2 separate regions of the Homo sapiens genome follow, and region 1 is linked to region 2. The links come from fine-mapping of genetic effects on gene expression. A gene starts in region 2. The other region holds a variant in brackets. All regions are shown on one strand. Distances are from middle to middle. Region 1 has its middle 30 kb from the start of SNORA33. Region 2 holds the start of RPS12 (ribosomal protein S12).

Region 1 (5,530 bases), 33 kb before region 2:
CCAGTTATTTTGAACCATTCCTGTGTGTAATTGTATCACATCAACCTACCAACTGACTAGTAAATAGACTGGTTTCTGCATATCACTTATACAATCAAACGTGAATCTGTAGGACAAGATGTAAAAAGCTAAGGTCCAGAGTAGCTCACGTGAGGTGCCACAAAAGTGCCAAAGGCTGTTAACAGCATAAAACAATAAACAAGGAAATATATAATAGGATTGCAAAAATAACAGCATGGTTCCAGATATAGGAAACTTTTAGTGTCACTATGTTCTGTATTGGTCATAGCCCTCCTAGGTTGCTGTGGCTGCAACTGGGTATTATATTTTCAAATGGACAAAACAAAATGAGACAGTGTCCAATGGAGGGCAATTGGTTTAGAAGACAGGAACTATGAAGAAAAGCTCCAAAAACATTTGTCACAAAATCATTTCTGTGACAACTTGGGAAAGAAAAAGCGAGGGTCAAATATAACAGTATATGTTAAAGGTTGAAGGAGTAGTCTAGTCTCTACAGCTTCAGAAAACACAAGCACATAGTTTTGCTAATACTATGTTTTACTCATTATAGAGCAAAAATGGAGTCGTAGAAAGAAATGGAGACAGCCAATTATTACCTTGAGCATCAAGCAGGGACTGTGTGATCATGTGCTAAGGGGGATGACAAAAAGATTCACGGCTGGGCGCGGTGGCTCACACCTGTAATCCCAGCACTTTGGGAGGCCGAGGTGGGTGGGACATTTGAAGTCAAGAAATCGAGACCAGCCTGGCCAACATGGTGAAACTCCATCTCTACTAAAAATACAAAAATTGGCCAGGTGTGGTGGTGGGCACCTGTAATCCCAGCTACTCAGGAAGCTGAAGCAGGAGACTCACTTGAACCCGGGAGGCAGAGGTTGCAGTGAGCCGAGAACGCACTGCACTCCAGCCTGGGTGACAGAGCAAGACTCCATCTCAAAATAAATAAATAAATAAAAGATTATTTTCCCCCCAAACTATGATTTCATAGCTATCAATGCATAATTCTTTGCCAAACATAACTTTTCATTTAAAACTTTTAGAGATCAAATAGGCAGAAATCACTTAAAAGTTTTAATTTAGCTCATGACAAAGATGCATAGCCATCCTTTAATATTCACTAAGTTTACCCTGGGCTTATGACAGTTTAGTGCACAGTAAATATTGTTATAAATTATACACTCAAGATAAAATAATAAGAAAAGGCAGAAGAGTCAGACACCACTTATAATACTAAACATGCTAATAATAGCTTAGTAATAATATTTCCTAGCAGGTGAAGACTATTACATGCAGTGTAACATGAGAAAAATGTTAAACGTAAATAGTGGCACCAGAATTTAAAGTTGGCAGAGCTGATGCTATCACTAACATTTCATAGAAGATTTCCATATGCCATTTTTGCATAATAAAAAGGCCATAAATATGCTTTGGTTGGGCCACACACACATGCACGTGCATACACACAGGGATAACTCAGACTCCCTTGCTCCCTAGACTCTCTTCTCCATGTCACTAATTAATCCATTTAGTCATCAATTATCTAAACATATATTTATATCCCCATTATAAGAGGATACAGTTCCCTCTTTTTAAATCCATTTCCTTGAATTCTACATACTTTACAAGCATTCACATCTTACTATATCAGGCTATAATTTTAGTAAAATCTTCTATTGTATTTAAGGAATTACTTGGTGGGAACTGATTAGAAGACTTTAACTTAAGTTCCTCTTGAAGGATTTTTTTTTTTTGCCAAAGTCCTTCTATTTTCTACAAATGATTATATTTCTTCATGCCCACATGTTAGTGATTGCTCCTAGAGTTGGATGCATGCTGGGTAGACCCATAACAATCATTCATGCTTAGGATCTATGTAGCATTTTCCATTTTTATCTATCCCCTTACCTTGATTAATTTTTCTTCCTAGCACTTTGCACTCCCTGACATTTTATAACAGGTCCACATCTCATATCAAAAACCCTTAGGACCAGTTGTGTTTCAGAATTCAATTTTTAAAAAAATTTTATAAAGGCTTTATGGCATACTCTCATCAGGGTCCATGGCAGCTCTCCATGATCAAACATTAATACTTCTTCAATGCATGGACATTCCTAGTAAGAGAGATAATTAAAGACTACAAATAACTTCACCTTTTTTCAGGTCAAGTTTTGCTGCCAGATGAGTTCAAGTCAGGTCAGATTTTGCTGCCAAATGAGTTAGGAAATACCTTTTAGTTTGAAGAGCTTTTTGAATTTCAGAATCACAGGTAACAGATTGTGGACCATAAATATTTACTCTATTTTCTGTTCATCCCTCCAACTAGGATTTAAGAGCAATGGATACCTGAATATTTTGTTTAACTTCTTCACTGTGTCTCCAAAGTCTAGAATATGAAAGACATGATCTCAATAAATAGCTGTGAATGAATGAATGAATGAATAAATGAATGAGAGGATCTGATATCAGAGTTCTGCCTAATAAGGGATCTCCCTTACTTTGGCATATTTTATGCCAGATCTTCTCTCTTTGGGAACTTGAATAGTAATACACAGAGTGGGATGCAGACTATGGACTGACGCTAAAACTAAAAAGCAAGATAAAACAAAACAACCTATGGACAGAAAAAGCATTATGCAAAAGCAATGAGGCAGTAAAAGATATAAGTAAGCAGAAACCATGAGGTATAAGCAGAGAAGAGGTCATTAGTCAGAGACAGGGTTCTCAAATATTAATATACAGAATTACCAAGACAGATTGTTAAAACTCTGATTGCTGAACCCCACTCCCTAAGTTTTTAAGACTGAGGGTGCTGTTTTGGTTACCGTAGCCTTGTAGTATAGTTTGAAGTCAGGTAGCGTGATGCCTCCAGCTTTGTTTTTTTGGCTAAGGATTGACTTGGCAATGAGGGCTCTTTTTAACCTAGGCAATACCATTCAGGACATAGGCGTGGGCAAGGACTTCATGTCTAAAACACCAAAAGCAATGGCAACAAAGGCCAAAACTGACAAATGGGATCTAATTAAACTAAAGAGCTTCTGCACAGCAAAAGAAACTACCATCAGAGTGAACAGGCAACCTACAGAATGGGAGAAAATTTTTGCAATCTACTCATCTGACAAAGGGCTAATATCCAGAATCTACAATGAACTCCAACAAATTTACAAGAAAAAAA[AC/C]AAACAACGCCATCAAAAAGTGGGCGAAGGATATGAACAGACTCTTCTCAAAAGAAGACATTTATGCAGCCAGCAGACACATGAAAAAATGCTCATCATCACTGGCCATCAGAGAAATGCAAATCAAAACCACAATGAGATACCATCTCACACCAGTTAGAATGGCGATCATTTAAAAGTCGGGAAATAACAGGTGCTGGAGAGGATGTGAAGAAATAGGAACACTTTTACACTGTTGGTGGGACTGTAAACTAGTTCAACTCTTGTGGGAGTCAGTGTGGTGATTCCTCAGGGATCTAGAACTAGAAATATCATTTGACCCAGCCATCCCATTACTGGGTATATACCCAAAGGATTATAAATCATGCTGCTATAAAGACACATGCACACATATGTTTATTGAAGCACTATTCACAATAGCAAAGACTTGGAACCAACCCAAATGTCCAACAATGATAGACTGGATTAAGAAAATGTGACACATATACACCATGGAATACTATGCAGCCATAAAAAATGATGAGTTCATGCCCTTTGTAGGGACATGGATGAAGCTGGAAACCACCATTCTCAGCAAACTATCGCAAGGACAAAAAACCAAACACCGCCTGTTCTCACTCATATGTGGGAACTGAACAATAAGAACACATGGACACAGGAAGGGAGCATCACACACCAGGGCCTATTGTGGGGTGGGAGGAGGAGGGAGGGATAGCATTAGAAGATATACCTAATGTTAAATGACGAGTTAATGGGTGCAGCACACCAACATGGCACATGTATACATATGTAACTAACCTGCATGTTGTGCACGTGTAACCTAAAACTTAAAGTATAAAAAAAAAGAAAAGACTGAGGGTGCTTGAGAATTTACCTTTCTAAGGTGAAGCTGATTGTATTAGTATATTAGGGTTTTCCAGAGAAACAGAACCAATAGGATATGTGTGTGTGTGCGTGTGTGTGTGTGTGTGCATGCACGCGTGTGTGTACATATGTAGTGAAAGAGAGAGAAAATCCCAAGATCTGCAGTCTGAAGGCCTGAGGACCAGGAGAGCCAATAGTAAGTTTTAGTCTGAGTCCAAAGGCAAAAGACTGATGTCCCAGATTGGTTTTTGTTTGTTTGTTTGTTTGTTTTTGCTTTTTGTTTTTTTGTCATTGTTTTTAGATGGAGTCTCTCTCTGTCACCCAGCCTGGAGTGCAGTGGTACGACCTTGGCTCACTGCAACCTCCTCCTTCTGGTTTCAAGCAATTCTCCTGCCTCAGCCTCCTGAGTAGCTGAGACTACAGGTGTGCACCACCATGCCCAGCTAATTTTTGTATTTTTGGTAGAGACAGGGTTTCACCATGTTGGCTAGGCTGGTCTTGAACTCCTGACCTTAGGTGATCCACCTGCCTTGGCCTCCTAAAGTGCTGGGATTACAGGCATGAGCCATAGCACTGGGCCTGATGTCCCAGATGTAAGGACTGTCAGGCAGAGACCGTGAATTCTCCCTTACCTGACTTTTTATTCTATTCATGCCTCTAACAGACTGGATGAGGCCCACTCACACTGGGGTGGCAGTCTGCCTTAGTGAGTCTACTGATTAAAATTTCATCTAGAAACACCCTCAGAGACATACCCATTATAATATTTAACCAAATATCTGGGCATCCCATGAGTCATTCAACTTGACACATAAAATTACACTGATGCTGCTGATGTGGAGACCACAGTTTGAGAACTGCTGGCACACTTCATAAGCAATATTTATTTTACAAGGCACATGTGAGCAATTATTTAAATTCCAGTGCCCTTCAAAAATAATTTGAGTCTGCTCATCTGTAAAAGCATGTCAGTGTTCCTATACACTCTTGATATTCAATTTGATTTCCAATCCTAAAATGTATTTTCTTCTAGAGAAAAACGATAAGAGATCTCTTCTCATTGCAAAGCTGATTGTAACTATGAAGCAAACTTTTTTGAAATTAAGTGAAACTCGTGTTTAGTATTGTCTCAGAGACATCAAAGAACAGGTCTCCACAGAAAAGAAATTTCAGTATTCCTGATTCCTCTGGATTTACTTGTGGCAGCTGCTTATTTTCTGGCAGCCAAAAGTCTTGAATTTCAAGTAACACAGAATAAACAATATAAGTCCATCTGAGCTTAAGGATCTAACAAAGTTGCTCACTGTCGTGGCACGAAATCTTTATGCACCAAAAACTTCATAGACTAATTTTGATTGCTCTTAGCAGTGTAAAAGAGGAGCTACACAGCTTGATTTTTTAAACACTCAGATCAAAATTATCGTTATAAAAATATTTTGAATGTGTAAGATTTAAAAGTAAAGTCTTAGAAA
Region 2 (5,000 bases):
GGCAGTTCAGTAGAGGGAGCCAGTTGTCATCATGTACAGCACTAAGATCACCTACAAGCCTGCTACTAATCTTTGTTGTATACCAACGTCAAAATTAGGATTCAATTCTGCAGGTATAAAATGCTTCTACCTACAATCATCTTTAAAATGGCCGACAGTATCAGGTGCACGTAATGTTTACACCTGCACAAAATGAACAGCTTGAGACTTCACAGAATTTACCCCCATATACAAGCATCACTGAACATTAGTCCCAACACAATCCTTAGCAGCCTTACCTTAATTAGGTTGATTTGGTGTTCAGCACAAAGGGCCTCCACCAACTTGACATACATAGGCTCATCACAGTTGGATGCAAGCACACAAAGATGGGCTTGGCGCCTGAAATTCAAATTACAATGAAAATGGAGCTAAAACTCAGATCCAAATCCATCATTCTTGCATTTTAGGAGGGTTATCTTTGCACTAACACTTGCGAAACATAAGCAGCCAATCCACTGAACACATAAATGCGTACAAAATTGCTTGAGTCTGAAGAACCTGCTAGGGAGCATATACATCTTCAATTAACCTACAACTGGTCTTCAGTAAAACCTCTGTCCCTGACACACTGAATTGGTGTAAGTCATTTTTAAAACTTCTGGCCAAAACCCAACCATAATAGCTTTCTTGTAAGCCAGCTTCATATACCTAAAGAAACATGTGAAAGGCCGGGCACGATGGCTCACTCCTGTAATCCCAGCACTTTGGGAAGACGAGGGGGGCAGATGACCCGAGGTCAGGAGTACCAGACCAGCCAGAGACCAACATGGCGAAACCCCGTTTCTACTGAAAGTACAAAAACTAGCTGGGCATGGTGGCGTGTGCCTGTAATTCCATCTACTCGGGAGGCAGAAGAATCGCTTGAACCTGGTAGGTAGAGGTTGCAATGAGATCGCGCCACTGCACTCCAGCCTGGGGGACAGAGCAAGACTCTTTGTCTCAAAAAAAAAAAAGAAAAAAGAAAAAAAAAAGACTGTGGCATTAATGGAACAGTTATGAAATGCCATGCAATAATGCCGAAATAGAAATACAGAAGACTCATACTAGGACCTACTAAATACATTAAACAATAATGCCGTTTCCATCGGATTGAACTGGCTAGATTACACCAAAACGAACTTGTCCTGTAAAACCTTAAAACTGCATTTAAATTCAGCTCAAGAGTAGGTTGATTTGTCAATGCCACCACCCTAAAAAACACATTAACTCGATCCATTCAAATACATTAACAAATATCCCAAATTCAAATAAATCACAGCTATTATACTACTAAATTCATCTAGGACCAAATGCTTCTGAAACCTGAGTTTGAAATTCCATTAAATTAATGCTTGTTTTGCAAACTACCAGATGTAATGTGGCTCTCCATCTCATCTATCTGCCAGATAAGTATAAGACTGACTAGCTCCACAACCTACAGGTTTGTCAGACTCTTATGTTTCACTCATAAAAGGAGTGAAGGGGTATCCGACAATTAAAGTCATCATTCAAACACTGTAGTTTTGAGTGCTTATCCCCATTCCAAACAGCAACCCACACATTTTAAGTGGGCTTTATAGATCTGAGTTCTGATACCTTTTCCTAGGTTTCCGGTAGGACGGATGCCATTCAGAACTTTTGCGCTAACACCATGAACTCCATGCCTTCTTCCCTTGGGTGGCAGTTTTGTTCCGGTTGCAAGAACCCACAGTATTGAGACTGATACACGTACTTGTCTAAGGCTTTGGCAGCTTCGCGAATTCCACGTGCTAGGCCATCGTGGATGAGGGCAGTCTTCAGAACCTCTTGTAAAGCAGTATTAACGTCCATTACACCTCCAGCAGCAATGCTTAAACGCGACACATCAGAACCATCAGTTAAAATCCTCACACCACATAAGGCCTTGCACTCAGCAAAAGCTAAGTGTACAACAGACGCGCTTACGGCGACCCGTTTGACCCAGTCCTGTTCCGCCAGCTCTAGCCCCACGCCTCAGCCGCACCCCGACCCCAACTCCAACCCCGGCCCCTGGGCTCACCCTTCCTCGGCCATGGCGGTGGGTTACGGGTGAAGTTGAATCTTGAACGCACTAAAAAACAAAAGCATTGACTTGTTAAAGAACCAGATACTCGTCACGAATCCCAGCAAGAACGCAACGAGCCACAAATTATAACCAATACACCCCCCTGCCGCCTCGCTCAACTTACCCCAAGCCTCCGCCTCCGCGCGACTCGGCGGCGGCAGGGAAAGAGGCCTCATCCGCACGCATGCCGGTATTTAAGGGTTTTTCAGGTCCCCTGTGCGCATGTGCACTCCCACCCTCGAAAGAGGTGGCTCCCGCAGTGCCGGGCCTGGGGAGTTTCTGTTTCCGGATTGAGGCGGTTCTGAGGCAAACGTACTGCGAGTTTTCTATCTCTGCCAGGCCGGTCCTTGGCGAGTGCAACAGGCACTACGCGGGCAGCTTCGCGTTGTCCTTCTTTGCGGAGGCGTGGCCCACCGAGGCCCAGGGAACTCATTCTACGGAGCGCGACAGAAGCCAAACAAGTGTGTCCGCGTGTTCTTTAAGGCACCTAGAGCCCTGTATCCCGCCGAGCGCCAGTTTTAACCCTTTCCACACCACGTTCTACTTTCCTGTTGCTTCTACAAGACCCAGCCTCCCCAGGCAGCGCACTTTGTTCCTTCGCTTCTAAGTCACCCTGAGAGACCATGTTTGTGTCGTTGTGGGTGTGATCCTCATCTTTGTCTTCATGAAACGAGAGCCTACATGCTTTCACTCTTCCAGGCTGGAGTGCAATGGCGCGATCTCAGCTTACTGCGACCTCCGGCTCCCGGTTTCAAGCGATTCTCCTGCCTCAGCCTCCCGAGTAGCCGGGATTGCAGGCGCCTGCCACCACCCTGGCTAATTTTTTGTATTTTTAGTAAAGACGGGATTTCACCATGTTGGCCAGGCTGGTCTCGAACTCCTGACCTCAGGGGATCCACCCGCCTCGGCCTCCCAAAATGCTGGGATTAGAGGCGTGACCCGCCGCCCCCGGCCGCTTTCACTATTTCTAAGCCCTTTCCCTGCGGTGTGTTGGTAAAGCGGAACCCTGCAGCCAGGGGTCAATTCTAGTTTCTAAGTATAGCGGGAGTCGCTTCTGAACGAAGTTTGTTCTGCTTTGTTTGGTTTTTAACGACGCGTTGTGCTCGGAATACACAGTTCCGCGCAACTCAGAATTCCTCAGGTGCATTTTCAACACCTACAATGTGCCTGACGCAGGGCCAGGTCCTGGGACTACAGACATGAAATATCCAGTCTTTGAGGAGTCCATTTTCTTCCAGGAAGCAATATTTTAAATTTGGAAGTGATTGGCCATTCCCCAATCCCCACTTCCAAACCAAACGCACGAAACACTACTGAATATGATCAATACTGCCTTTGTGTTTAATTTCCTCTCCTGGGTAGTCAGCCGCCAAACCAGTGAGCAATTATTAGGCGCTTGGCACGTGCCAGCGCTGTGAATCCAGTGGGCAGATACTGTTAGACTGGTGAGTGCAGCGAAAAAAACAAAAATGGGTAACGCAGTAAGAGCACCAGGGAGTTCACCAGAACAGAGACCTGCTGTAATGTTAATAAACTGATAGAGTTCAGTTTACTGATAGAGTTCAGTTTTAGATTTTCCGCTGGTTTCAGTTTCATTTTTAAAGCGTTGAAGCTGCTTCTCTGTCAGTAACTCATGCAAATGTTTATTGAGCTTTTGATTTAAAAAAAAAAAAAAAACGAGGAATTTATAAAGATGATTCATTCCTGTAGCCCTGGTTTGTTTGTGGTGGGATTAAGATTTTAGACAAAAATCAGAATACCTCAGGGCCACAGAGGAGATACAAAGTGGCAGGGGGTTAGGGAGTGGGGATGGTGTGAAAAGGTAAGAGGACCTCAGGCTTCTGGCAGCATTCGAAACAGGCTCAAAACAAAAACTAAGAGATTCCAAATCGGTGAGCATGGAAGGAGAGGAGGGTATTCTAAATGGATGAAAGTGTAGGGGCAAAGGCATGAAATCCTTCTTGCCTTTTTTGGAGGTTATAATTAACACGTTTGTATTTTTGAAAGAGAATGTGGCAAATAGTCTTTCAGCGCATTTCTCATTATCTAAAGACAGTACAGTTGATATGCTAAGCATATTAGATTCCTTCCCCAAACAAATTTTTAAGGAAGAAGCAGGGAATTTGGGAAACCTAAGTGAAAACATTCACTGCCAAACAGCATATTTATGTGGGGGGAAAATGATCAAGTGCCTTGTTAGCTAAGGCAGTTGTTCCCAGTACCAACCAGCTCAGACTTGGTTTCTATCTTTCAGCAGCTGCTAATCTGTTCTATTGACTCAGACATCGTGGATCTCTGCTTTAATGTTTCACTGCACTAAAATGTCTTTTCACACAAACCTCCCTCCTTAGAGGGAGCTACATTTTTTTTTAAGTCCTACTTATATAACCTACTTATATAACTTATATAACCTACTTATATAAGTCCTACTTATATAACCAGTTCTAACCCCCAAAATGAAGTCAGGGGGCACACTGGTGATACAGGGGTTCTTTAATATAGATTCTCCTAGTTCACTTTTTTTTTTTTTTTTTTTTTTTGAGATGGAGTTTTGTTCTTGTAGCCAAGGCAGTGTCGGGATCTTGGCTCACTGCAACCTCCACCTCCCAGGTTCAAGCGATTCTCCTGCCTCAGTCCCAAGTAGCTGGAATTACAGGTGCCCACCACTATGCCCAGCTAAGTTTTGTATTTTTAGTAGAAATGGGAGTTTCACCATGTTGGCCAGGCTAGTCTGGAACACCTGACCTTGGTTGATCCGCCCACCTTGGACTCCCGAAGTGCTGGGATTACAGGTGTGAGCCACTGCGCCCAGCCTCCTAGTTCACATTTTTAAGGTTACCTCCTCTCAATTTCAGAGACTGGTAAAGGTGGAAGACAATACTACATAGAGGATAGT

Evidence for each region. PIP is the estimated chance that this variant, and not a neighbour inherited with it, causes the effect.
Region 1: its variant is the best candidate, but not a certain one, in a credible set for the expression of RPS12 in whole blood (INTERVAL, PIP 0.71).

What each region holds. Positions count from the first base shown.
Region 1 is chr6:132,844,392-132,849,921 of GRCh38, reverse strand. No RefSeq gene overlaps it. Among named protein-coding and RNA genes, the nearest start is that of SNORA33, 30 kb to the right of the region's middle. The variant AC/C (reference allele first, on the strand shown) is at 3,194.
Region 2 is chr6:132,811,842-132,816,841 of GRCh38, reverse strand. It overlaps RPS12 (ribosomal protein S12), which reads right to left and starts at 2,273. Exons shown (of 6, transcript NM_001016.4): 1 at 2,229-2,273; 2 at 2,060-2,110; 3 at 1,754-1,870; 4 at 279-381. The coding sequence starts at 2,073. It overlaps SNORD101 (small nucleolar RNA, C/D box 101), which reads right to left and starts at 1,535; the gene lies at 1,463-1,535. It overlaps SNORD100 (small nucleolar RNA, C/D box 100), which reads right to left and starts at 40; the gene lies at 1-40. It overlaps LOC107986644 (a long non-coding RNA gene), which reads left to right and starts at 2,554. Exons shown (of 3, transcript XR_001744345.3): 1 at 2,554-3,549. RefSeq lists enhancers at 1,808-1,937, 2,368-2,647, 2,562-3,308, 3,738-3,807.